Homo sapiens: one gene and its partner. The protein of the gene in region 2 purifies or fractionates together with the protein of the main gene of each other region. This does not show direct contact. Each region holds a gene or a part of one and is shown on either strand. Other genes may lie near its edges.

Evidence for each region.
Region 1: the proteins of ASS1 (region 2) and PC purify together in Homo sapiens (affinity purification with mass spectrometry; 2 studies listed by BioGRID and IntAct, with this or other methods). This does not show direct contact.

Annotation. Positions count from the first base shown.
Region 1 is NC_000011.10:66,951,229-66,967,513, forward strand, and holds the start of PC (pyruvate carboxylase, mitochondrial precursor), read right to left. Parts: upstream 7,156-16,285; 5' UTR 7,094-7,155; intron 6,769-7,093; exon of another isoform or gene 6,512-6,768; intron 3,209-6,511; 5' UTR 3,021-3,208; intron 1,241-3,020; 5' UTR 1,202-1,240; intron 1-1,201. UniProt on the Homo sapiens protein: Pyruvate carboxylase catalyzes a 2-step reaction, involving the ATP-dependent carboxylation of the covalently attached biotin in the first step and the transfer of the carboxyl group to pyruvate in the second.
Region 2 is NC_000009.12:130,445,900-130,456,642, reverse strand, and holds part of ASS1 (argininosuccinate synthase), read right to left. Parts: intron 6,788-10,743; exon of another isoform or gene 6,688-6,787; intron 6,372-6,687; exon of another isoform or gene 6,310-6,371; intron 4,420-6,309; 5' UTR 4,415-4,419; coding exon 4,310-4,414; intron 2,339-4,309; coding exon 2,270-2,338; intron 1-2,269. UniProt on the Homo sapiens protein: One of the enzymes of the urea cycle, the metabolic pathway transforming neurotoxic amonia produced by protein catabolism into inocuous urea in the liver of ureotelic animals.

The DNA of each region.
Region 1 (16,285 bases), on a different chromosome or scaffold from region 2:
TGAGCCACAAAGTCCCCAAGGCCACAGCGGGCCTGAAGGGAAGAGCATTATTGTTGTCACAAATGCTGGGAGAGCACCTGGTTCCCTGGCTCGGCTGCTCCTGCAGACCAGCAGGGGGAGAGGGGACTGGACTAGCAGGGGACCGGCGGGAGGGCTGTGGAATTTAGGCTGAGGGGAGGCCACTGAATCTCCCAGGCACCTGCCACCATGGAAATCCATGTTGGGGGAACTGTAAAAGCAGTAGAGGCCGGACGCGCTGGCTCACACCTGTAATCCCAGCATCTGGGGAGGCCGAAGAGGGCGGATCACCTGAGGTCAGGAGTTCGAGACCAGCCTGACCAACATGGTAAAATCCCATCTCTACTAAAAATACAAAAATTAGGCCGGGCACAGTGGTTCATGCCTGTAATCCCAGCACTTTGAGGGGCTGAGGTGGGTGGATCACAAGATCAAGAGATTGAGACCATCCTGGCCAACATGGTAAAACCCCGTCTCTACTAAAAATACAAAAATTAGCTGGGCATGGCAGCACACACCTGTAGTCCCAGCTACTCGGGAGGCTGAGGCAGGAGAATTGCTTGAACCCAGGAGGCAGAGGTTGCAGTAAGCCGAGCTTGCGCCACTGCACTCCAGCCTGGCAACAGAGCAAGACTCCGTCTCAAAAAAAAAAAAGAAAAAAAAAAACTTAGCCAGGTGTGGTGGCACATGCCTGTAAAATGTGCAGGGGAAGAAGGGCAGGTCCCTTTTTCCCCGTTGTTACCGTGACTGGCAAAGGTTGAGCGTCACCCTCTGGAAACCCGTGTCAAGTGACTTTACAACCAGCTGGCAGAACCACCTCACACCACAGCTGCCTGCTCTCCATGCTGACTCAAGGGGTCTTCTCAGAGACGGCCCAGCCCCAGGGATTCTTCCTGCCCAGCTTCCCAAGCTGACCATACCCTTCCAGAACCAGGGCCTTCTGCTGAGGCTGGCCAGCTGCCAAATGGGGCCAGCAGGGAGCCAGATGTCACTTTCCTGTAAAAATCAGGAGCAACTGGAAACAGACAAGACTGCTTAAACGGATATTATCCACAAATCAGAGCGCAGCCTTTTTTTATTGATTGAGCTTAAGACCTGACATGCCAAACTGCTGGCATCCACAGCTGCTCCTGGTGAAGACCCCCATGCATCCCGCCAGCCTGGATTCAGGCACAGGACTTACCCTTAGTGTTTGGTCAGCTCTCCAGAAGGCAGACACTATCTAAAGCAAAAGAAAAAACAGCATTACCCTCATTGCTCCAGGAACTTCCCAGAGAAAACAGGAGTGGCAAGAACACCGATTTTAGAACCCAGAGAACTTTTTCAGTCTTGTTACCCGGGCTGGAGTGCAATGGCGCAATCCCGGCTCACTGCAACCTCTGCTTCCCGGATTCAAGCGATTCTCCTGCCTCAGCCTCCTGAGGTAGTTGGGATTACAGGCATGTGCCACCACGCCCAGCTAATTTGGTATTTTTAGTAGAGATGGGGGTTTCTCCATGTTGGTCAGGCTGGTCTCGAACTCCCGACCTCAGGTGATCCACCCACCTCGGCCTCCCAAAGTGCTGGGATTACAGGTGTGAGCCACCGCACCCGGCCAAGAACTGTTTCTTTGCTTCCACTGAGGGCACCAGGAGGGTACAGAGCTGGAAGCGCCAGCTGTGCTGTCCCACTGCCTGGACTGCACCTCTTGTTACTCTGACAGCCGCTCTGTAATCACTCAAAGTCTGTTTCCTCATCTGTAAAATGGGAATAATAACAATGCCCATCTCACAGCGTACTAGGGAATACCCAATGAGGCAGCACACGCACAGCAGTGGCACCATGCCTGGCACAGAGGACACACTGGGACGTTAACCGACAGGCTAGGTGGGAAGCGCTTAAGTAAAACCCTTTTCTGCCACCCACTACACATGAACAAGAAGTTCTAGAAACAGTTCGTTTTATCTGAAGTGCTTTCTCTTCCTGCCCACTCCGTCCAGCCTCAGGCCCGCTTTCTCTGCATCTCCGCAGAGCTGTCTCTAATCCTTCAGGAGCTCCCTCTGAATACTGGGAGTCTGGTTCTTCTCTCACTCCACAACTTGAAACTAATAAGGAGCTGTCTTACGTGACCTGAGATGTGTACTCTATTTCCTGGCTATTTCCTCAAATCCTTTCCTGCAGAGACCCCTCTCTGCCATAAGTAAGAGCCCACCTCGTGTTTATGCCCATGGGAGCCCACAGTTGGTATTGTGTAATCACTTTTCGGAGTTTTATTGACTGCTTATTTCCGAAAAAGCCACACCTACCCTAGCCACTAGTCAATGAACAGCAAAATGGAAAAACAGGCCAGCAAGCTCAAATCCCTGTTCAGAGAAAACCAGCTGCCTTGACAGATAACGTCAAGGCTGAAATTCAATGTCTGGGGCACTCAAGTCAATAAAATATTTATTGAGCACATGCCTTGCACAAGGAACTGTATGTACACTCAGGCCCTGCCCACAAAGTGCCAAAAAGCAAGTTGTTAGGGGCTGGTTAAAAGAAGCAAAAATGGGATGGCACGTGAGAGGGACTCCAGCAGTGAGCCACCTAGCCTGCCTGGCTGTGTTACTCTGGGCGTTATTTCACCTCTCTGAGTTTCACCTATGAGAGTCCGTCATTTGTAAGAGATGGATCTAATAGGACCTTCGTAATAGGATTGTTGTGATAATCACATTATGTGTATGTAAGGGGCTTAGCAAGGCCGTCACCACCACACAGTAGTTGACTTTTATTATTAATAACAATAAATCATTACTTATCATCATCGTTATGAAAAGAGAGCCCAGTCCAACTGAATAGATTTGGCAAGCCTTAATAAAGTCCTGTGTCTCGAAGAATAATTTAATTTTGACAGGACAAGATAAGAAGCAAGGCCCTGCAGAAAACAAAGTCAACAAGAACAAGAGCAGAGGGGGGACCGTGAGAAGTGAGTTTGGGGTAACAGTGACTAATCTCACTATGGGGGCTGACACAGAAGAGGGTACCTGCGGAGGCAAATGGAAGAAAGAGCCCAACAGGTGGAATCATATTAGAGAGTCTTGAACGCCAAGATGAAGCAAGCTTTTCATTCGGTAAGTAAGAGGAAATGGTTTATTCTTTTGGCCATTTCCCATCTTCCACCGTCAGGCCCGACTCCTTTGGCAAAGTGTCCACAGGTGAGACTAGAAGGCAGCTAAGAGAAAGAGAGGAAGGCACGGTCAGTCAGGCCCAGGTGAGGTTTCAGAGTGAGCAGGCAAAATGCCCTGCTGCTGTGAAGGAGGCCTCTGGGTGAGAAACCTGCCCCAAAGCAGGAACTTTCAGGATACAAGAAACGGGGCCCATTCAGATGGGGGCAGGACGATATTGGGAGGCAGCCAAAGAGAAGGCCATGCTCATCCTCAATGAAAATGTTGACCAGAGGCCGGGTGCAGTGGCTCACGCCTGTAATCCCAGCACTTTGGGAGGCCAAGGCAGGTGATCACCTGAAGTCAGGAGTTCGAGACCAGCCTGCCCAACATAGTGAAACCCCATCTCTACTAAAGATACAAAAATTAGCCAGGCAAAGGGTTGGTGCCTGTAATCCCAGCTACTCAGGAGGCTGAGGCAGGAGAATCACTTGAATCCGGGAGGCAGAGGCTGCAGTGAGCCAAGATGGTGCCACTGTACTGCAGCCTGGGCAACAAAACAAGACTCCGTCTCCAAAAAAAAAAAAACACAGAAAACGTTGACCTGAACGAGGCCTCCAGCCCATGCAGAAGGTGCCAGTGAGAAATGTGGATTGCCAGATTTACTGCCATACTGACCTTGGTGCTGGCCATCCCTGCCACCTCCAAAAGTAACTCCTTTCCGTATTCCCCATCTTGCACCCTTCTCTCCTCACTGGTTCCCAGTTTGACCCCTTTTCAACTAATTCACCCAAAACACTCATTAGGCACCTACTTGTTCCTGGCACTATTAGGTACTGAGAGGACAGAGGGAAGAGGGACACAGGGAACTGTGGCTTGGGATAAGAGTAGTGAATCTGAGGTCCTGCCCTGCCACTGGTCCCAGAGCCCCCATGAGTGGTGGTGGGAGGACAGGTACCTATCACAGTGCCTGGGGCACTGGAAGTGAGACCGGGTGAAAGCAAGGAGCAGGACAAAAAAGGGAAAAGGGCCTGGGGGACCTACTGTGGGCTACCAGGGACAACCTTCTAGGGGAGATCTTGGAGGTGAGGACTGGCACAGGGAACCGAGTCAGCCAGGCTGCAGCGGGCTTCAGTAGAAAGACAGAAGGCGTTATGACACATGAGGGTACATTGGGGTAAACTGAGGAAACTTTGGATGACAGCCTAATTAATTCAAAAAGCAGATACTGAGCAACTGTAGTGAACAAAGCCCCTTCCCTAAGAGCAGGGCACAGCAGGGTGAAGGAGCCATTAGTAAACAAATGACGGCTGCTTTCAGGGAGCTTACCAGAACACCATGGGACACAATCTGCAGCTCAGGCCTGCAGCTGGGCCCTCAGAGCCCTGTCTGCCTTTTGGGCTTTTTTTTTTCTTTTTTTTTGACAGGGAGTTTCATGCTGTCGCCCAGGCTGGAGTGCAGGGGCGTGATCTCAGCTTACTGCAACCTTCAACTCCCAGGTTCAAGCAATTCTCCTGCCTCAGCCTCCTGAGTAGCTGGGATTACAGGTGCCCGCCACCAGGCCTGGCTAGTTTTTGTATTTTTAGCAGAGAAGGGGTTTCACCATGTTGGCCAGGCTGGTCTCGAACTCCTGACCTCAGGTGATCCACCCGCCTCGGCCTCCCAAAGTGCTGGGATTACAGGCATGAGCACCGCGCCCAGCCCCGTCTACCTTTGCATCTAATCTTGCTTCCTCAGTTTGGTTTCCAGTCACTGACTTACCTGCACCTTAGCAAATCCTAGTGCCCTCACCTGGTTACATCTCCTGTAGAGGCCTCTTCCCAGTGACCAATCAAGTTTCTTACACCCAACAGTGAAGCTGTTTCCCCCACATTCTCCTTCCACCTTCCTCAGCCTTCCTCTTCCAGTTCTAATTGCTTGAAACCTCTGTAACTGGCCAGGCATGATGGCTCATGCCTATAATCCCAGCACTTTGGGAGGTCGAGGTGGGCGGATCACCTGAGGTCAGGAGTTCAAGACCAGCCTGGCCAACATGGTGAAACCCCATCTCTACTAAAAATACAAAAAATAGCCAGGTGTGGTGGCATGCGCCTGTAATCCCAGCTACTCAGGATGCTGAGGCAGGAGAATCGCTTGAACTCGGGAGGCGGAGGTTGTGGTGAGCTGAGATCACACCGCTGCACTCCAGCCTGGGCGACAAGAGCGAAACTCCATCTCAAAAAACAAAAACAAAAAAACCTCTTTAACAAAACCTCTCCAGAATAAAACTTTCTAGCTGCTGAAATCCAATCACTGTTTCTCCACTGCAGCGGCATCAAAAAGAGGTCCACAACTCACCTCCTCCACGAAGCCTTCCCAAGCCCATCCCCTTCCAGGCCATTTCTCCTCTCTCTCGCTTTAGTGTGTGGTTTGCTGTGATTTACTGGCCTCTACTGAACTTCCTCTTCCATGTCCTCCTAGGGCCAATACCTCACCCACTAGGCTCTCTACAAACATCTGCAGCAGGCTGCCTTGCTGCTTAGGTTTTGTTTATTTTCTCTCTCCCCCAATGGGTTTGTCAGCAGTTGCAGGACAAGGATTGACCTCATCGCCCACGCTGTCTCTCGGCCCAGTGTAGGGATAGGAACACTGTAGGTGTGCAAAAGAATGTGATTAAGAGTTCAACAGTTAAGGAGAGCCTGCAGGCAGGAAGCTGTAGCTGCAAGTGAGAGAAATGCTGAGCACATCCACCCCCAGCACAAGTGTTTGCATCACATACAGGGAAAGGGTGCCTTGGGGGAGGCCAGCCAGGGCTGATGGTGGCAGTGGGTACGGGAGCAATAGGGAGGCAGATGGCAGGCACTCTGGAGGTTCTGGTTGTCATCAGCAAGTGTTGGTACTTCTCTGAGCCTGTTTTCTCAGCTGGAGAACGGGTAAGGAGCCCAGGCCTACCTCTTCTCACAAAATAAAGACACAATCTGATTTTTTAGAATTTCAGACGAGGCACGCCTGTAATCTCAGCACTTTGGGAAGCCAGGGCAGGCCGCTCGCTTGAGCGTAGGAGTTCGAGACCAGCCTGGGCAACATGACGGAACCTCGTCTCTACCAAAAAATACAAAAATTAGCTAGGCGTGGTGGCGCCCGCCTGTAGTCCCAGCACTGGGGGACTGTGGCAGGAGGGTCGCTTGAGCCCGGGAGGTCGAGACTGCAGTGAGCCGAGATCGCGCCACTGCACTCCAGCCTGGGTGGGTGACAGCAAGACCCTGTCTAAAAAAGAAAAGAAAACAAAAGAATCTCAAAGTTGCCAGGGACCTAGGGACTTGGCTTCCGACTCTGATGCGCTTTGTAAACTACTAAAAGCTGGAGAAATAAGGGGCTGAGCCCAGCCCCACCTCCTGAATGAGCGGCCTTGGGCGAATCACTGCGTCTGGGCGCCTGGAGCTTCCCCGTCTGAAACAAAGTAGAGGATCCTACGGGAGGCGGAGTGCGAGAGCAAGGAACAAGGAAAGCCCTCGCCTTACACGCCGCGGCTTCCTGCAGAGCTGAGCCACATCCAGTACGATGGGGACAACTTGGGCTCCCGATCCTGACAGACTTGGGTTCGAACCCTCAGGGACCTCGCGCGAGGCGCTTTAGTCAGTTTCTCCATCTGCAAAATGGGCCCGAGAGCAAGAATGAGGCAGCCCGCAGGCGGACGCTGCGGAGGGGCGCTCGGGGGCTGCAGCCGGGGGCGGGTCCGGGGGCGGGTCCAGCCGGCCGAGCCCCCGCGCGAGGGGGAGGGGCGCCGTCCGCTGCGTCGCGTCGCGCACCGCGCACAGCCCGTCGCTGTCTCCTCCAGCCGTCACTCGCGGAGCCCGCGCCGCCTTTGCGCGCGCGACCCTTACATAAGCGTCCCTCGCAGCGGTGCCGGCGCACGTCCACCCGCTCCGACCCGCCGCGGGAAGAGGACCGTGCGGAGCGCGGCGGACACTCACCTCCTCGCCGTCGCCAGTCCTCGCCGCCGCCTCTACCGCTGCTGCCTCCACTGACAGAGAACAGCTGCGGTCTCCGTGCAACCGAACTTGCTGCAGTCCCGGCCCCGCCTTACGGACTTCCTATTGGCCCAGACAGCCCAACCCCTCCCGTTATTGGGCAGTGTTCTCCGTCACTCCTCGCCCCTAGGCTCTGGACTCCTCCCTGTGCCCGCCTGTCCGTCACGTTTAAGCCTTGGCGCCCCACGTCAGCCCCGCCCCTCCCGTCCCCGGCGAGCGCCTGGATAAGTGGCGAGGCTGGGAGAGCCCGCCCCTGGCGCACCACCGCCTACTCCCTTGTCTCCGGAGCCTCACGTGGGCCGCCGGACCCTAGCCGACGCCCGCAATAGGCGGAAGTGGCCGGGCTGTGGCTCGCAGTTATTGGCTGTCGGCGGGGGTGGGGACGTTCGATTCATTCACCCGAGTAGCACGTGTCTCCCGAAGCTGCAAGCACAACAGTTCGCACTGGGGCTCAGGCATCCCGGCTAGACGCAGATACGCGCTGGCTAGCGGAGAAGAGGTCGCAGGAAAAGCTAACGTTAGCGAAGGGCAGGAGGAAGGAGAAGGCGCTTGTGCCACACGGGTTACATGACTATGTCCTTTAACAGCTGCGTAGATGATGATGGGGGTCTACAGTACGTCTGTGTGACCTTGGGCAAGCAACTTAACCTCTGAGTCTCGGTTTTGTCATCTGCAGAGCGAAGCTACTCAGGACCTAGGGGGTTTGGAAGCCTTGTTTGAGACACAAGACACTTGACAAGACCCAAGACACTTGTCAAAGAGGAAAGCTTTGACAAGTGGAACAAGTGACTGAGGCATAAGTCTCTGTCATCGAGGCTTATTAATCCAGTTTGAGGGCGTGCTCGGGAAAAACACGAACCACAGACACATCCGTGGTTGTTTTTCCGAAGAGGTTTTCGGGAGGTTTAGTATTTATGCATTTCCTTAAAGGGGGAATGAGGGGAAGGCATGTAGGAAGAAGGGCAAGTAGGCGATTAGGACAATAGTTACATTCCTATGGGACTTTAGCTAATGCCCGGTAAATCTACGTAAGATGAGATGAATGTCTGAAGAGAAAAAGAGAGTAAAGGAAGAGTCAGTTATGCAGATGTCTCTGAGTAGGTAGTTTTGACTTTGTTCTGCACCTGGGAAAATAAGCTTGTAATGACATTCTTATTGTGGAATTTTTAGGAGCTAGACTTAGATTGTAGACCTGAAGCTACAATTGACCTGTCCTTGTTTATGGGAGGCCAGCAAGAATTTACTTGTGAATGATCTGTGGGGGCAGCCCTTCCCAAATGCCTGAGGTTTTTACCTTTCCGTGTGGATATGGCTGATGCCTAATGCTAGTAACAGCTATTCTTTTGGAAGAGGGTGTTGCAGTGACTCAGCTTCAAGGCTTAATCTTCACTTTCGCATGAATTGGGGCGCTGGGGGGGGGTCCCGAGATTTTTACTTTCATTCACCGCTGCGTAAACTGGGGTCTGTGCCAACCAGGGGATAAGGGAGTGACCAAACAAACCAAAATCCTGCCTTCAAAGGAGAGCAGACAGATTAATATATATATATATATATATATTTTTTTTTTTTTTTTTTTGAGACGGAGTCTCGCTCTGTCGCCCAGGCCGGACTGCGGACTGCAGTGGCGCAATCTCGGCTCACTGCAAGCTCCGCTTCCCGGGTTCACGCCATTCTCCTGCCTCAGCCTCCTGAGTAGCTGGGACTACAGGCGCCCGCCACCGCGCCCGGCTAATTTTTTGTATTTTTAGTAGAGACGGGGTTTCACCTTGTTAGCCAGGATGGTCTCGATCTCCTGACCTCATGATCCACCCGCCTCGGCCTCCCAAAGTGCTGGGATTATAGGCGTGAGCCACCGCGCCCGGCCCAGATTAATACATAGTACATCAGATGGTGATAAGGGCAAAGAGAAAAAATAACCTGCTTCCAAAAAGGAGAATCAAAGACTATGAGAACATCTTGCTAACTAGAAATTGTTTATTGAGCCTGGAGAGATCTGACTCTTCTCTCAGACTTCTTGTATAAGTAGTTTCTCACTCCAACTTCCCTGTCATTCCTTCTACCCGTCCTGAAGAACTCCAACCTTGGGTTGGATCCGACACAGCTATTTTAGTAACAGAACAAGGATTAAGATCCCAGTTCACCTTTGGGAGGCTGAGTAGGGAGGAATACTTGAGCCCAGGAATTTGAGACCAGCATTGGCAACACACTAAGACCTCATCTCTGTCTTTTAAAAATTAAAAAATGGGGCCGGGCTCCGTGGCTCACACTTGTAATCCCAGCACTTTGGGAGGCCGAGGCAGCAGATCACAAGGTCAGGAGTTCAAGACCAGCCTGGCCAATATGGTGAAACCTCGTCTCTACTAAAAAAGTACAAAAATTAGCCGGGTGTGGTGGCAGTCACCTGTAGTCCCAGCTACTGGGGAGGCTGAGGCAAGAGAATCGCTTGAACCCGGGAGGCGGAGGTTGCAGTGAGCCGAGATCATGCCACTGCACTCCAGCCTGGGTGACAGAGCGAGACTCCATCTCAAAAAAAAAAAAAAATTAAAAAATGGGCTGGGCACGGTGGCTCACGCCTGTAATCCCAGCACTTTGGGAGGCTGAGGTGGGTGGATCATCTGAAGTCAGGAGTTCAGGACCAGCCTGATAAACATGGTGAAACCCCCTCTCTATTAAAAATACAAAAATTAACTGGGTATGGTGGTGGGCACCTGTAATCCCAGCTACTCGGGAGGCTGAGACAGGAAAATTGGTTGCAGTGAGCTGAGATTGCGCCATTGCACTCCAGCCTGGGCAACAGAGCAAACCTCCATCTCAAAAAATAAAAATTGGCCAGGTGCAGTGGCTCACACCTATAATCCCAGCACTATGGGAGGCCGAGGTGGGTGGATCACTTGAGGCTAGGTGTTCGAGACCAGCTTGGCCAACATGGCGAAACCCTGTCTCTACTAAAAATACAAAATTAGCCAGGCGTGGTGGTGCATGCCTGTAATCCCAGCTACTAGGGAGGCTGTGGCAGGAGAATTGCTTGAACCCAGGAGCCGGAGATTGCAGTGAGCCAAGATTGCACATTGCATTCCAGCCTGGGCAACAAGAGTGAAAAACTCTGTCTCAAAAAAAAAAAGAAAAGAAAGAAAGAAAAAGAAAAAGTACTTCTCAGCGTAGGCTTCTGTGCCACTAGCAACAGAATCTCCTGGGGACAAGGTGGGAAACACAGATTCCTGAGCCCCATCCCATTGCTCTTATGCATATTAACCACCAACTCAGAGGTCTTAGAATCATCAGCAGAATACCTGAGTCACCTTTGCCTCTTCAATCCATCTCTAGGGACTGAGACTGAAACTGACCCAATAGTCCCATAGACTTTTTTTTTTAATAAACATAGAAATGGACCCTTTTGGTCTTAAAGCTTGAAACTTACATTTGTTTTATCTGAGTTCCTTCCTCAGGAAAGGACACTCAGGCCTCTCAAAAAAAAGTATCAGAGAACTGAAACTCACCAGATCAAGGCATCCAGACAACAAGATGCCAGAACCCACTTTCACCCTGCTTGCTTCCTTACTTCTCCCTAGTTCCTGTTTTTTTTTCTTTTTTTTTTTTTCTGAGACGGAGTCTTGCTGTGTTGCCCAGGCTGGAATGCAATGGTGTGATCTCAGCTCACTGCAACCTCTACCTCCCAGGTTCAAGCAGTTCTCCTGCCTCAGCCTCCCGAGTAGCTGGAATTACAGGTGCCCACCACTACACCTGGCTAATTTTTGTATTTTTAGTAGACCATGTTAGTCAGGCTGGTCTCGAACTCCTGACCTCGTGACCCACCCACCTCGGCCTCCCAAAGTGCTGGGATTACAGGCGTGAGCCATCATGCCTGGCCCCTAGTTCTTGTTTTTTTACACATTGTTACATTTCTTCCCTCTGTGTTAACTCTTAATTTTAGTCACTCAGGGAGATGGATTTGAGACTGATCTTCTATCTCCTAGGCTGTAGCACTCAGTTAAAGCCTTCTTCCTTGGCAATAATTGTCTCAGTGATTAGCTTTCTGTGGAGAAAGCAGCAGGACCTAGATGGAGGCCCTGGTGTTTCAGAAACAAGACCCCCTGCACTGCAGTGCTAGTTTTAGAAGCTCTCCAAGTGGTTCTAATGGAGTCAGTATGAAGACCCACAGGGAGGCTAGAGAAATACTATCTAGGCTTCCTGGATGGTAAGACTCTTCCAGGGCCCTTTAAAAACAAAACCAAGGCCGGGCACAGTGGCTCACGCCTGTAATCCCAGCACTTTGAGAGGCTGAGGCAGGTGGATCACCTGAGGTCAGGAGCTCGAGACCAGCCTGGCCAACATGGTGAAACCCCGTCTCTATTAAAAATACAAAAATTAGCCAGGTGTGGTGGCACATGCCTGTAATCCCAGCTACTCGGGAGGCTGAGGCAGGAGAATCACTTGAACCCGGGAGGCAGAGGTTGCAGTGAGCTGAGATCGCACCACTGCACTCCAGCCTGGGCAACAAGAGCGAAACTCGGTCTCAAATAATAAATAAATAAATAAATATAAAAATAAAAACAAAACCAGATTCCTGGACCCACACCCACCCCTGTGGATAATGATTCAGTCAGTTTGGGGTGGGGCCTAGTAATCTTTTCAATGCTTTTTTTTTTTTTTCTTTTAGCAAGCACTCAATTGATTCCTGAGATCTGGGGAGCTTGGGAAACTTAGCTGAGCTCCTAGGAGGATGCAGCAGCAGCTGAAGCCAGACAGAGGGGCTGAGATGTGCTATGGAAGGCTGGCCAAGGTTAAGCTCTGGTGCAGAGAACACAGGCCGCAGGACTCTGTTGGGAGGGAAATGATGTTCAGGGGGCCCTTACAGAGCAGCTGAGGGGCTGCCCTAAGGCTAGGAGTGTAGGCCTGCTTTATTATTTCTTAATAGCTAACACTCTAAAATGTTCTTGGGCTGGGCCGGGCATGGTGGCTCACACCTGTAATCCCAGCACTTTGTAGGGCTGAGGCAGGTGGATCACTTGAAGTTAGGGGTTTGAGACCAGCCTGGCCAACATGGTGAAACCTCGTCTCTACTAAAAAAATACAAAATCAGCTGGGCGTGGTGGCGCACGCCTGTAATCCTAGCTACTTGGGAGGCTGAGGCAGGAGAATTACTTGAACCTGGGAGGCGGAGGTTACAGTGAGCCAAGATCGCACCATTGCACTCCAGCTTAGATGACAAGAGTGAAACTCCATCTCAAAAAAAAAAAAGGAAATTCTTGGGCCGGCTGCAGTGGCTCATGCCTATAACCCTAGCACTTTGGGAGGCTAAAAGTGGTGAGGAGGCTCTTCCTCTTCCTCTGCCCCAGCTTGTGGGCGTCAGCCCTGGTATGGACCTGGCACCATGATAAAGGGATGCAGCCATGGTGAGGTATCTCCCACAGGCTTTAGGGGCATGAGACTTGGGCAAGTGGGCTTTGAAACAGGAGTGGGAGCTGGGTGTGGTGGTGCATGCCTATAATTCCATACTTTGCGGGGGCCAAGGTGGGTGGATCACTTAAGCCCAGGAGTTTGAGACCAGCGTGGGCAATATAGTGAGGCCTCATTTCTTTTCTTTTTTTTTTTTTTTGAGATGGAGTCTCGCTCTGTCACCCAGGCTGGAGTGCAGTGGCACGATCTCGGCTCACTGCAACCTCCACCTCCCAGGTTCATGCGATTCTCCTGCCTCAGCTTCTCGAGTAGCTGAGACTACAGGCGACTGCCACCACGCCCGGCTAATTTTCTTGTATTTTTAGTAGAGATGGGGTTTCACCGTGTTAGGCATGATGGTCTCAATCTCCTGAATGTGAGGCCTCATCTCTATTAAAAATTGAAAAAGAAAGGCCAGGCACGGTGGCTCATGCCTGTAATCCCAGCACTTTGGGAGGCTGAGGTGGGTGGATCACTTGAGGTTAGGAGTTTGAGACCAGCCTGGCCAACATGGTGAAACCCCATCTCTACTAAAAATACAAAAAATTAGCCGGGCGTGGTGGCTGGCGCATGCCTATAATCCCAGCTACTCGGGAGACTGAGGCAGGAAAATCATTGAACCCGGGAGGCGGAGGTTGCAGTGAGCCGGGATCACACCACTGCACTCCAGCCTGGGTAACAGAGTGAGACTCTGTCTCACAAAAAAAAAAAAAAAAAAAATTGAAAAAAAAAAAGTCAGCCAGGCTTGGTGGGGTGTGCCTATAGTCCCAACTACTGGGGAGGCTAGGTGAGAAGATCGCTTGAGCCTGGGAGGTGGAGGTTTCAATGAACCGAGATTGTGCCACTGCACTGCACTCCAGCCTGGGCAACAGAGCAAGATCCAGTCTTCAGACAAAACAAAACAAAACAAAAACAGGAAGTTGCAGCTAAGAGGCTGGGCTGTGGATAGGTAAAAGGACTGGCTTTACTGTTACCCCAGTAACTCTGGGGGGCACGTTGGGAGTAGCTAACCCATCCCTTTGCTTCTTAGGGACATGTTCAGAGGCTCAGAGACAGAAGAGGGCAGATCTCATAATTGACAGAGACTTCTGCAGTCTGAGAACACAGGGGAGACACTGGCCCTTGGTCCACCTCGGCCGGTGGAAGGTCTGACCACCTTGTGGCGATCCCATGATGGGTTCCACGAGCCCAGTGGAATTGTCCAGACTGAACGGCCAAAGTAGGAGGAGGCTGAAAAGACAGGGCGGTTTCTAGGGGTGAGAAGCCATGGGGTTAAAGGAGCCTGGGAACACAGTGCAGGGAAACATTGGAATTTAGGCTCCCTCCAAGCCAAAAATGGTACTTGAGTGGCCACAGGCAAGGGCACAGGGCCACCTCACACACTTGCAGTTTCCACACCACAAACACTCCTGGCCAATGCCTTGCTTGCTCAGTCCATGCTGGCGGGAGAAATCTTTCTTTTGTCATCTCTGGAGTGGGGATTGGAGACATCTGGGTTGTCCTTATGAGATCCTCAGGGTAAAGCCAGGCTTCTGGATTCTAAACACAGAGGGGTGGGCTGTTTCCAGTCTCATAGTAACAGCTGTGTTTTGAGGGATCTGTAGCTTTGTTTTTTGTTTTTTTGTTTGTTGGTTGGTTTTTGTTTTGTTTTGTTTTGTTTGAGACAGGGTTTCACTCTGTCACCCAGGCTGCAGTGCAATGGTGTGATCTCGGCTCACTGCAACCTCCGCCTCCTGGGTTTAAGTGATTCTCCTGCCTCAGCCTCCTGAGTAGCTGGAATTACAGGCAGCTGCCACCACATCCGGCTAATTTTTTTTTTTTTTTTTTGAGACAGAGTCTCGCTCTGTTGCCAGGCTGCTGGAGTGCAGTGGTGCAATCTTGGCTCCCCGCAATCTCCACCTCCTGGGTTCAAGCGATTCTCCTGCCTCAGCCTCCCAAGTAGCTGGGACTACAGGCATGTGCCACCACGCCCAAGTAATTTTTGTATTTTTAGTAGGGACAGGGCTTCACCATGTTGGCCAGGCTGGTCTTGAACCCCTGACCTCAGGTGATCCACCCGCCTCAGCCTCCCAAAGTGCTGGGATTACAGACGTGAGCCACTGTGCCCAGCCAGGATCTGTAGCTTTGTCTGGGAGCTCCCATCCATCTGGATGTCTCCAACCTTCTTGTTCCTAACTGCCCTGTCCTTGCCACCATGCTGTCTGAACTTGCTGGTATGCTGTCCTCCCTACACCCCAATGGTATGAGGTATCATCATTCCTCTATCCCCATCGTGCCTTCCTGCCTGTGCTTGGGCTGTTTTCCTTGCATGGGATTCCTTTTCTCAATAGATTCACCTGATAAACTCTCTTCCTGTCATATCTCTCTCTCTCTCTCTCAAGACTTAACCCAGCCATTGTCTCCTTCATGAAGCTCTCCAAGGCCACTCTCATGGTGTAAGGGGCCCTCTTAGGACTCCCATAACACCCTGGGCATTATTTCTAGCCCAGCACCACACTGCTTTGAAATGGGGTGCTTTGAGGTCTGTCCCCCAAAACGAGTCTGGGAAAGTAGCTCATTTTTCATAGTGCTGCAGAAATGGCTCAATATCCTCCCACCACCTCATCTTCCTTCCCGGCCCAGGGACACTGTCAGAGCCTCAGAAATTCCTCAGAATTTGCTCCTCTCGGTCCATGCCCCCAATTTGACCTGTTCCAGGTTATCATCTCTTTAACTTTTCCCTCCCCCATAAACATGGCGTCCACTGGACTCTGTGGACTCTGCTTGGTCTCTGGGGCACTCCTATTCGCTGACTATTAAACATTTACTATGTGCTAAACTCAACTCTTGTAGAGGTGTGAGGAGGGAATAAGGGACAGAAGATAAACCCAAGAACTATTTTTTTTTTTTTTTTGAAACAGAGTCTTGCTCTGTCACCCAGGCTAGAGTGCAGTGGCATGATCTCGGCTCACTGCAACCTCTGCCTCCTGGGTTCAAATGCTTCTCTGCCTCAGCCTCCCAAGTGGCTGGAATTACAGGCACCCGCCACCATGCCCAGCTAATTTTTTATTTTTAGTAGAAACGGGGTTTCACCATCTTGGCCAGGCTGGTCTCAAACTCTTGACCTCATGATTTGCCCCCCACACCGCCCACCTCCCAAAGTGCTGGGATTACAGGCGTGAGCCACTATGCCTGGCCAATTTTTAAAATTTCTATAGAAATGGGGACTCCCTTTGTTGCCTAGGCTGGTCTCAAACTCCTGCCCTCAAGTGATCCTCCCCTGCCTCGGCCTCCCAAAGTGCTGGGATTACAGGTGTGAGCCACTGCACTTGGCCCACAAACAATTTCAAATTAAATAAATGTATATCTGCACAGTCACTCATCTTACTTCTGGTGAGCATTATTTTTTTCATTTTTTTATTTATTTAAAAAACTTTTTCTAGACAGAGTCTCAGTCTGTTGCCCAGGCTGGAGTACAGTGTCACGACCTCTGCTCACTGCAACCTCCACCTCCCAGGTTCAAGCAATTGCTGTGCTTCAGCCTCCCGAGTAGCTGGGATTACAGGTGTGTGCCCCATACCCGCTGATTTTTGTATTATTAGTAGAGTTGGGGTTTCACCATGTTGGCCAGGCTGGTCTTGAACTCCTGACCTCAGGTGATCCACCCACCTCACACTCCCAAAATACTGGGATTTACAGGCATAAGCCACCACGTCCAGC
Region 2 (10,743 bases):
CGAGAAATTCTTGGTACTGCTTTTGCAACTTCCTGTGTCTATAATTATTTTGAAAAAAATCCTTTTAAAAAATGAAATAAAAAGGCATAGAAAAGAAAGCAATTGGGACTAAGGATATATAAAAAACATTAGGATAAATGTGTTTTTGTGTTTGTTTGGTTGGTTGGTTGGTTTTTTTTACAGAGTTTTGCTGTTGTTGCCCAGGATGGAGTGCAATGGTGTGATTTCAGCTTACTGCAACCTCCGCCTCCTGGGTTCAAGCGACTCTCCTGCCTCAGCCTCCCGAGCATCTGGGATTACAGGCACCCACCATCGCGCCCAGCTAATTTTTGTATTTTTAGTAGAGACAGGGTTTCACCATGTTGGCCAGGCTGGTCTTGAACTCCTGACCTCAGGTGATCTGCCTGCCTCAGCCTGCCAAAGTGCTGGGATTACAGGCGTGAGCCACTGTGCCTGGCCCATCCTAATGTTATATGCAAGAAAATAAACATTAAAAACGCCACGTAAATTAGAGTGTAGAGGATTCCCAAGACCACAAGTTTTGAGAACTGCTCATCTAGAATAAAGGACAAAAGCTGAAGCCGTGCACAAAGCCTGCTCCTGCGCTGCTGAAAGCGCACTCGAATCTTCAACACTCAGGGCTCTTTCTCCCCTTCCTGGACTACTGCTCAGACAACCCCTCTGCTCTCCAGCACTCGGGAGGCACAGAACCAAGGAGGGACATTCTAGTTCCAGGCCTGTGGCCAGTAGGTGACTTGGGACTGGGGCATCCACTCCCTCCCGTGTTCATTTTAACATGCTAATTACCCTGGCAACCCTGCAGAAGCACCCCACAGAGGGGATCAGCTCTGACCCTGCAGGTGGGCTGGTGGCCTTGCACATCATCCCTGCTATGTCCCCTGCTCACTCTCCCAAATGAAGGGGCACAAGTGGCAAGGGCTTCTCCATGGGGAGTGAGCACATGTGAGCAGGGGTCCTGATGACACTGTTCATCATAAATGCCCTGTATGGGACAGGGGTCTGCCTGCCACATGCCTAGATTCACAATCAAGGCACCAGACTCAATTGGAGTTCTCTGATTCTGTTGAATGAATGGAAGAATGGGTAGACAGAGAGATAAAAGAGGGAAGGACAGGTAGGGGGATGATGGACAGAAGGATGGATGATGGATGACAGATGGATGGATGGATGAATGGATGGATAGAAAAACGGTGAATGGATGAAGGATGGATGGATGGATGGGGGATGGATAGATGAATGGCTGGCTGTCTGGATGAATGGATGGATAGACAGTGGAGGGATTAATGACAGATGGATATGTGGATGGATGGATGGATAATGAAGGGATGGATGGGTGAATGGATAATGGGATGGATGGATAGATGATGGATGGATGAATGGATGGATGAATAGACGGATGGATGATGGATGGATGCATGGGTAGATGATGGATGGATGAATGGATGATGCATGGAAGGATGAAGAATGATGGATGGATGGATGGATGATGGATGAATAAATGGATGATGGATGGATAGACGGATGATGGCTGGATGAATGGATGATGGGTGAATGGATGGATGGATGGATGATGGATGAATGGATGGATGATGGATGGATGGATGATGGGTGAATGGATGGATGGATGATGGATGAATGGACGGAGGATGGATGGATAGATGGATAGATGGATGATGGATGGATGGATGAATGGATGGATGGATAATGGATGGGTGGATGAGTGGATGGGTGATGGATGGATGGGTGGATGGATGATGGATGAATGGATGAATGGATGGATGGATGGATGATGGGTGAATGGATGGGTGGGTGATGGATGGATGGATGGATGGATGATGGGTGAATGGATGGGTGGGTGATGGATGGATGGATGGCTGAATGGATGGATGGATGGATCGATGGATAGCTAATGGAGGGATGAATGATGGATGGATATGTGGACGAGTAGATAAACAGAGATAAAAGAGGGTGAGTGGGTGCATAGATGGACAGAGAGATAAAAGAGAAGGGAAGGTATGTGGGTGGGGAAGAGACACTCCACCTGGATGGGAAGGTGGGTGGGTGGAAGAGGGCGTGGGGGAGGCAGAAAAACAAGAGGGTTCACACACCTGAGAGCAGGATGATCTCATACTCTTAGAAGCAAGAAGACACACTGGAAGGGATGGGATCCCTGGGGCAGGAGCATCCACCACTGCCCTCCACATCACCGCCCCACTCCCAGCCCAAATCCCTGCCTCCCGCCTGGTACCTTTTTGGCCCCAAGCTTCAGTGCCTTCTTCCTGGCTTCCTCGAAGTCTTCCTTCTGGCCAATGTTGGCCTGAGAAGCAGAAGCGGAGAGGCTCCGTCAGCCCCTGGGGGGAGCCCTGAGTTCACACCATCCGCATGCAGCAGCCTCCCACCCCCTGCTACAGAGACAGCTTCCATTCCATGGCCAAGTCACAGTAAGAAGGAAAAAGGACAAAGCCCAAGGCCTGGAGAGGTGAGATTCTTCCAGGAGGTGAGATTGGGAGCTGGATTGTAGCGTGGTGATGGCTGGTGGCTTCCATGGGTTGGAGCATTGGCTGAGCCTGGCCCTGGCCACACAGGCTGCTGGGAGACAACCATCTGCTGTCATTGCTGGAAGGTCTAGGGTTCTCCTGAAACTCATCTGTCTTTTCCAGAAAACTCTTTCTCAGCCAGTGCAAAGATTAGCTTGTCAGGGCCTTCCTAGCCTCCAGCTCTCCTCCCTAGTCAAAGGCCATGCCTTGGCCATCCTGAGGCAGCTGAGAGGCGGGAGGCAGAGAAGCCCGTGCTCAGGAACTTCCAGCTCCGTCCCTGTGGCCAGTGCCCTGACCTCGGGGTCTGACAGCCCCTGTCTAGACACTGCCATGTTTCCTGCTGCCTGGACTCTGGCCTGCTGCCCAGATCCTGGCCTCAGCCCTCACTCCCTTCATTCGGCTCACCAGACCCTGGAATCTTGCCAAAGCCCAGCTGCAGGTGCTTATCTGAATCACATTCAGCTTTTAAATCCCCCAGGTGGTAGCCCAGGGGTCTATACGCCCAGCTCCAGCTCTGATTGCCCCGCTGTGCTACCTACAGTGAGATGGATACACCCTGGGCTCTTTGCAGCCCCTCAAAGCTGTGCTCTCACCCACCAGGTGACTGTGAGCAAAGTATTTCTTCCCCTGGGCCTCACTTTCCCCAACCTGAATGACAAGGGCATTGGGCGCAGTTAGACATGCCAATATGCCGGCAAACAAGCCACTTTTGGCAAGAGCTAAGTTTTGTCTGTCCAGAGACCCAGGCTCACTTCCTCTGGAAACAGAACCTTCTTTCCTGGGTGGACCCCATTCCACAGGGATGGAGAGGAAGAAATCCCGCCCACTGAAGGAGTAGGCTCATGGCCCAAGCCTCGCACCCCATGATGCAGCCATAGGGACTAATGCGTGGTGGGTCCCCATGGGCCCTACTGGGGGTAAGCCCTCCTTTTTGGGAAAGGTGGGCTATGAGGGTGACCATGAGCCTTGCCTGCCCTGTGGAGAGGCCAAGAATGAAGCCAAGTAGAGTTGGAGATAGATCTTAGAAGCACCTGGATCCAGCCCTGCCTGAAGCCATCCTACCCCTGGAGTTCTCAGTTGTGTGAGCCAAGAATTGTCTTTTCCCTTTCCTTTTTGCGTAAGTTGGTTTGAGTTCAGTTTCTAAAATTTGCACCTAAGAGTCCTGAACAGCACAGCCACACAGAGAAGGACTCAGAGCTGTGGCCAGGTTCAGTCGAAGAGGAGCTAGTTTGAGAGGGATGACTCCTATGGGCCCTGGATGAGGAAGTGGCTTCACACATAACCCATCACCTGTGACCTATTTCCCATCCCAGAACCAGGTGATCCCCCAGGGTCCTTCCAGCTCAGGATTCCACAATCTTTGCTGAATTACTGCAGGCTGACAGCATACTCTGGAGATGGGAAGACTGTGTGCCTTCCCAGGGCTGGCAGCAGGTCCCAGCCCATGCCTCTCTGCAAGCAGGCTAAGCCAGCAGCACTGCCAAGTTCACTTCTGTGCCCTCCCCGCGCCTCCATCACCTGGCTCTGGAAGGCATCTCAAGGATGGCCAATTTGCAGATGGAGAAAGTGAGGCAGTACAACGAGAAGCTATTTTCCTAGTTCCAGTTCAAGACAGGCTTCGAGAGAAGAGGCCAGGCTTGAATGAGTGACGGTGAGCAGACAGGCTGACAACCCAGACAGAGGCTGGCAGGGGGCAGACAGGACAGGTTGCAGGACACGCAGGAAGACAGACACCCAGGTCGCTCCCTCACCAGATAGGCAATGACGTCATAGCCTTGTTCCTTCAGCCACACGAGGATGCACGAGGTGTCCAGGCCGCCACTGTAGGCCAGAACCACGGAGCCTTTGCTGGACATAGCGTCTGGCGGGAGTCGAGGAACAACCTGAGTGACCCTGAGACAGCCAGTGCCCCCCGCCAGCCCCTGCAGACAGCCCAGCCCCGACCTTGGCCTTGGACAGCCTTGTCTCCTGGGCAAGCTGCCACTGAAGGTCGGGAACAGGATGTTCACCTTCAGTGCCTGCCACCCCCGGGAACCCTGACCTCGCACACTCTGCACACAGCCCCACAGACCACACTGGGGCCTGGGAATGCTGACTGCAGTCCTAGGCTGGTCGGGGAGAGGCATCTCTTGGACCTGATCCTCCAGCATCGAGGGAAGGCGGCTGAGGCTGAGCAGTTTGGCCCAAGGCCAGGATGTGAGGAATGCACGCAGGCAGGAGATGTGGGAGGGGCCTTGGCTCTGAGCCTCTGGCAGCTGACACATCCCCCATCAGAACTGCTCCTTGCCAAGCACCAGGCAGGGCCCTGGGAGCCTCAGCGGGATCTCCCTGTGCCCCTGAGCCCCCACTACAACCTCATGAAGTAGGAGTTGTCATTCCTATTGGGGAGGCAGCCAGCAGGGCTCAGAGAGGTCAGTGGCAGGCTCAAGGTCACAGAGGGCACAAGAATCTGTGCTTCCCCAGCACGCAGTGCCGCCGCCCACCTGCAGGTGGAGAAGGATGCTGTGGGGCAGGGGCCCAGCCCCAGTCCCTCTCCTACCTGCAACCCCATGGAACCTTCACTGGCTGGAATTTTAGACATCGTGTCTCCAAATGTGAGCGCCTCTGAATTCAACTCTGCCAATGCCCAGTTTGGAGGGGCTCAGAGACCAACTTCCCCCAGTGTGGAGGTAGAGAAACTGAGGCCCAGGGAGGGAAGGCGATAGACAGGCAGAGGCCTAAGACCTCTGCAACCAGCGGCCCTTCCCGGGGGGACAGATGGGCACGAGGGCTCTCTGCAGCCAGGCCCTCTGCAGCCGGGAAGTGCCTGCGGTCTCCCATCCTGCCCCACCCTCCGTCACAATGAAGCCTCCCGAAGGCGCCAAGGCCTCCTGTCTCCTGATCTTTGCAGCCATGCTTCTTCCCCGAGGGCTCTCCCTGAATCCTGGGCTGCCCTTGGGCTCGCCCTGCACCCCCCTCCCCCACATGCCTCCTGTGGCCCTGGGCTTGGGCGTCTTCACTGTGTCCAATTTGCTGAACAGGAAACCAGGGTTAGGGAGACGAGGTCACCTGCCCAGGGTCATCGGATCAACAAGCAGCAGGGGCAGATGTGGGCCCAGGCCTCCTGGTTCCAGCCTCCGTGGACACCTGGCCCCAGCATCCCGCATTTCCCAAATGTACAGGGCATGTTTGTTCTGCCTGGGAACGTTTCCACTGGAGTCTGACCAACGTCACAAGGTCAGAGTCACCCAGGGTCTTTATTAGACACTACTGGGGAAGTGGAGCCCAGAAGGGTCACCCGGCCATCACCATTGCAGTGATGCAGGCATCGCTATCCTGAGCACTCTCTGTGTGCCTGGAAGCTCGGGGAGAGGAAGTGCCTTTCCCAGGCCTCCCGTCCTCTGCTGCAGAGCCTGGCCGTGTAGCCAGGTGGACTTTGGAGCTCCGTCACATGAGAATTCAGTCCCGTGCATGCTGCACGGTCCCACCTGCCAGTCAGCCGGGGCTCACAGGCCTGTGCTGCCCTTTGGACTTAGAAGGGGAAACACCTCATGGACCATGCAGCTGGGGCAGAGAAGATGGTTCTGGTCGGTGCCCACAACGTCCCTACTGGGCATTCAACCCCCTGCCCCTGAGTTGCTGGTGACTCAGCCAGCCCTAACCCTGGAGCCAGCAGGTGGTATCCATGGCAACTGCAGCCAGGCAATTGGCCATGCAGGATGGAGGGAAGGAGGGAGGAAGGCAGGCAGGGAGGACTTAAGGTGGGCAGTACCTGGGATTGGAGGCGTGAGTTCCCGGCGTCTGGAATCTGTTTTCACAGTGCAGTGAACCACTCTGCAAAAGCAGAGCTACTCAGCTGCCTGCAGGTAGCCTGGGCCATCCCAGAGGCCCTAAACCTTACTTTCCAGCCGCCCAATCTCCTGTGAGCAGCCTCACTGAGCAGAGGAGGTCCAGGAGCCCCAGAGCCACCTGTCCTGCCTCCTGCCTCCTGCCCCCTGCTCCAGAAGGCATTCAGGAAATATGTGGAAGCCTACCCCTGTTTGCGTGTGATGGCGCGGGTGGTGTGGTTGGGTTGCGGGAAATTCTGTTGTATGTTTTAAAACAGCTCTATTGAGGTCTACTTGACATATCATAAATTGCATTTTTTAAATATCAGATGGGTAATGTGCCAACATCATAACAAAGTTTGAGGGTGGCACCTCACACACACACGAGAATACCCAATCAGCACATTCATCAACTACAAAAATAATCGCATATTTTTTTGTGTCCAATTTAGCAAGTTTCGGCGTGCGGATGCGCCCGTGACATCAACACCACAATCAAGGGAATAGACATGTCCGTCTTAGGCTAAGCCCTTCCATCTGGGGTTCTCTTCATTTTAGAGTCAGGAAAACTGAGGCTTGGGCTGAGGAACTTGCCCTGCATCTCGTTTGACTGGTAGGCAGCAGAGCCAGGACTCCAACTCAGATCAGCTCGGCTCCTTAACCCCCTGCTCATAGGTACAAGACCACCACTGGAGACTCAAGGAAGGGAAGTCCTGGGCAAGTGTGATCTGATGATGCTGGCCCAAGATTCACCCAGCTCTGAGAGTCACCCCTGCTCCTGCCTCCTCCCAGAGGCACCTGGAGCCAAGAGAGGCAGCTCCACAGAAACACGGAGGGGCAGCTCCACAGAAACAGCTGGATCACCTGCATCGCCTCAGTGACCCGCCATGCCTCCTGCCCATCAGAGCTGTATCCTTTTTTTTTTTTTTTTTTTTTCAGACAGGGTCTCATTCTGTCACCTAGGCTGGAGTGCAGTGATGCAATCTCAGCTCACCACAGCCTCCACCTCTTGGGCTCAAGGGATCCTCCCATCCCAGCTCAGTGCCACCACCCCCAAGTAGCTGGGACTACAGGCACATGCCACCACACCTGCCTAATTTTTGTATTTTTTGTAGAGATGGGGTTTCACTACATTGCCCAGGCTGGACTCGAACTCCTGGACTTAAGCGATCTGCCTGCCTCAGCCTCTCAAAGTGCTGGGATTCCAGGCATGGGCCACTACATCCGGCCATCATGCTGTATTCTAACTGCCCTCTCCCCCACTATGAGCTCCATGGAAACAGGGACCATCTCCCAGATGCCTGTGGCAGGCACTTAGAACAATGCTACTAGTTCCACTCTCTGGAGGTCAGCTCCTCACCGCAAAAAGAGGGCTGGGGTGCCCTGAAGCTGTGGAGTCCTACACATGCTCTCATGGCCGAGCACAGTGGTTCATGCCTGTAATCCCAGCACTTTGGACGGCCGAGGTGGGTGGATCACTTGAGGTCAGGAGTTCCAGACCAGCCTGGCCAACGTGGCAAAACCCCGTCTCTACTAAAAATACAAAAATTAGCTGAGTGTGGCGGCACACACCTGTAGTCCCAGCTACTTGGGAGGCTGAGGCACGAGAATCGCTTGAACCTGGGAGGTAAAGGTTGCAGTGAGCCAAGATCGTGCCACCACACTCCAGCCTGGGTGACAGAGTGAAACTCTGTCTTAAATAAACCAAAAGAAACCAGTGAGCCCCTCCTGCCTGCCAGGTTGTAGCTGGGCAGGTGTGGGCTCTGAGGCCTTCAGCCTCTGGGGCTGGGCAGTGTGAAGCAATGCATGGACCTGGCGTGTGTACCTGAGACAGTGTGTGTGTGTGTGTGTGTGTGCGCGCGCACACACCTGTGTGCACCCAGGGGTGCGTACCTGAGAGTACACAATGTGTGTGCATGCATGTGTGTGATGTGTTTGGGCTTGCACATGTGTGCCTGTGTGCATGCACACGTGTGTGGGTGTTGGGGCCAGTGTATGCATGCAGAGAAATGAGCTGGGCAGATGGGCTTGGGAAAATGATGCAATCAGACAGCAGCGTTGCTCCTGCCCTCCCAGCAGCGGGTGGGGCACCCCCCTCCCTCAGCCTCCGCAGGTCCCTAAGCTGCATTTGCAGCCCGAGGCAAAAACTAAATGAAACTGAGGGTTTGATGTCGGGGGAGGAAGTGACAGGGAGAGAAGGAACCACAGCTGCAATCCAGTGAGCGCTCACTCCAGGCACAGGACAGAGGTCAAGTCCACCAGACATGGGTTTGAGTGGCTTCAGCTCTCTAGCATAACTGCTCAGCTGCAAAATAGGGGTGCAAACAGCCTGCTCCCCACAGGGCGACTGTAAGGATTGGGTGAGATGCTGGGGGAAGGAGCCCAGAGCTGGGCACCAAGCATGTATGTGCCCACTAAGCTCTGTGCACCGCTGCTATGGCTGACCTCAGCCAAGTTCCTGGCTTGCTAAGCCTCAATTTCCTCATCTGTACAACCTGACAGCCCTCTGGGTTCTGACCCTCCCAGACATTGGGCTTTCTTCCTGGGAGCTGCGCCTGGCAGGCAGATCCTGGCTGAATTCAGCCTCCCCTAGTCCCAGCTCCACCCCCACCACATCCCCCAGAAAGGGCCACGGCAGGTTTCTCCAGCTCCCTGGCAAATGCCCACTGCCCTCCAGCCCTCCTTCCCCGGAAGAGACACCTGGGAGGAGGGAAGGTGGCCTCGCGTCAAGGTACCAGAGCCACCTGGCTTTCATTGGGATGGCATTCTCTGTGGCCCCAGCCACAGCCATCTGTCCAGCTTCCAGCAAACAGGCCAGCCTGGGCGCTCACTTGACACTAAGGAAAACTCGTGCTACTTGAAAACGTCAGAGCTGGAATGACAACAAGAGCGGCTACTATGTTCACAGTCACAGGTGCATCCTCTCAAGGTGGAGACTGCCATTACCACCTATTTACAAAGGAGGAGGCAGAGGCTAAGCGGCCAGCCGAGGTCACAAGCTAGCGGCTTCAAACCCAGCCTGACTGCAGGCCACTTGCTCTTCCCTGCACTAGGCCTTCCACTCCCTGGCTCCTAGGAGACCTCAGATCTCCCCTTCACTCTACACACCTTCCAGAAAACCAGCCCCCCAGTGAGTCATGGCCAACCTGCCCACTATTTCTCTGGAGAGCCTGTGTGCTATAGCTCAGGCCTACTGCCCCGTGGAAGATTCCCCTGCAACCCCTCGCTGACATTCTAACTCAGCTGAGCTCGGTTTGTCTTTGGTGATGGACGAAGGGCACATTCATTCATTCGTTCCACTCATATCAAAGTGCCTATGGGTGCCTGGTCGACCCCAAGTCTGGGGAGGGAGCCACGCCCTGGAAGATCAACTTTGCCCAAAGCTACATCAGAAATCAGAGCCTTAGACTCTGAATTCCAGCGAAGTTACCTCTTTCCACATGGGTGCCTGGTGCCCACAGGCAAGCCACTGACTTCAGGGACTGTGTAGTCAGTGCTCAGATGAGGCATCTGGTTGACCTGGCTGGCCTCCCAGCAGGCCAAAGATGAGATGGGCCCGGGTTGGGAGGGGGAAGCGCTTGTGCAGCAGGCTGTTTTGGGCCTGGCTCCACCCCAAGGCTCCTGCGGCCCTGGGCCTGCTTCCCAAGCACTCAGGAATGGAGACTGTGCTGAGAGTGGGGCCTCCCCTTCCCTCTCACGACGTGTCTGCCCCCGCACCGGCCAGGCGCTCAGCAGGCAGGAGTCACTATTCATTCACTTGATCCACCCCCACAGAGCAGAACCAGAATTACTTCTCAGCATGGTGCACAGATGGCCCCGCCAGGACAGGGTCCCGCCCCCACCCCCAAACTTCCCCGCCCTAGGCCTTGGGCCTAAGGGGTCTGGGAGGGAGAGGGAGTTTGGAATGGAGACTCCTCCAGTTCCTGCTCCTAGCCAAGCTTCCCAGTCCGTGTGGCTGCTTCTCCCTCCCTCTCATCAGAACCTAACCCCAGGCACAGTTATTGTGCAATTGGACCCAGGCCCAGCACCCAACAGTCTACAGAGCCCTTAGCAGCCGCACAGTATCTGCAAATGTTTCCTGAGCCCTCAGCCCCAGCCAGCTCTAACAGACTGAAGCTTGGGGGCCAGGCACTTTGGGTGGCTCGAGCCTGTAATCCTAGCAGTTTAGGAGGCCCGAGGGAGGAGGGTCGCTTGAGCCCAGGAGCTCGAGGCCAGCCTGGGCAACATGACGAGTCCACATCTCTGATAAATTTTTAGAAAGAAAAGAAAATGAAAAGGAAGCTTGGGAATCTGGAGGCTGAGCCAAGGCCTCACCAGCTCTCCCCATCACTGGGTTTGTGCTTGCTGGGAGCGGGAGGATCAAAGCCCAAGTCCCCTAG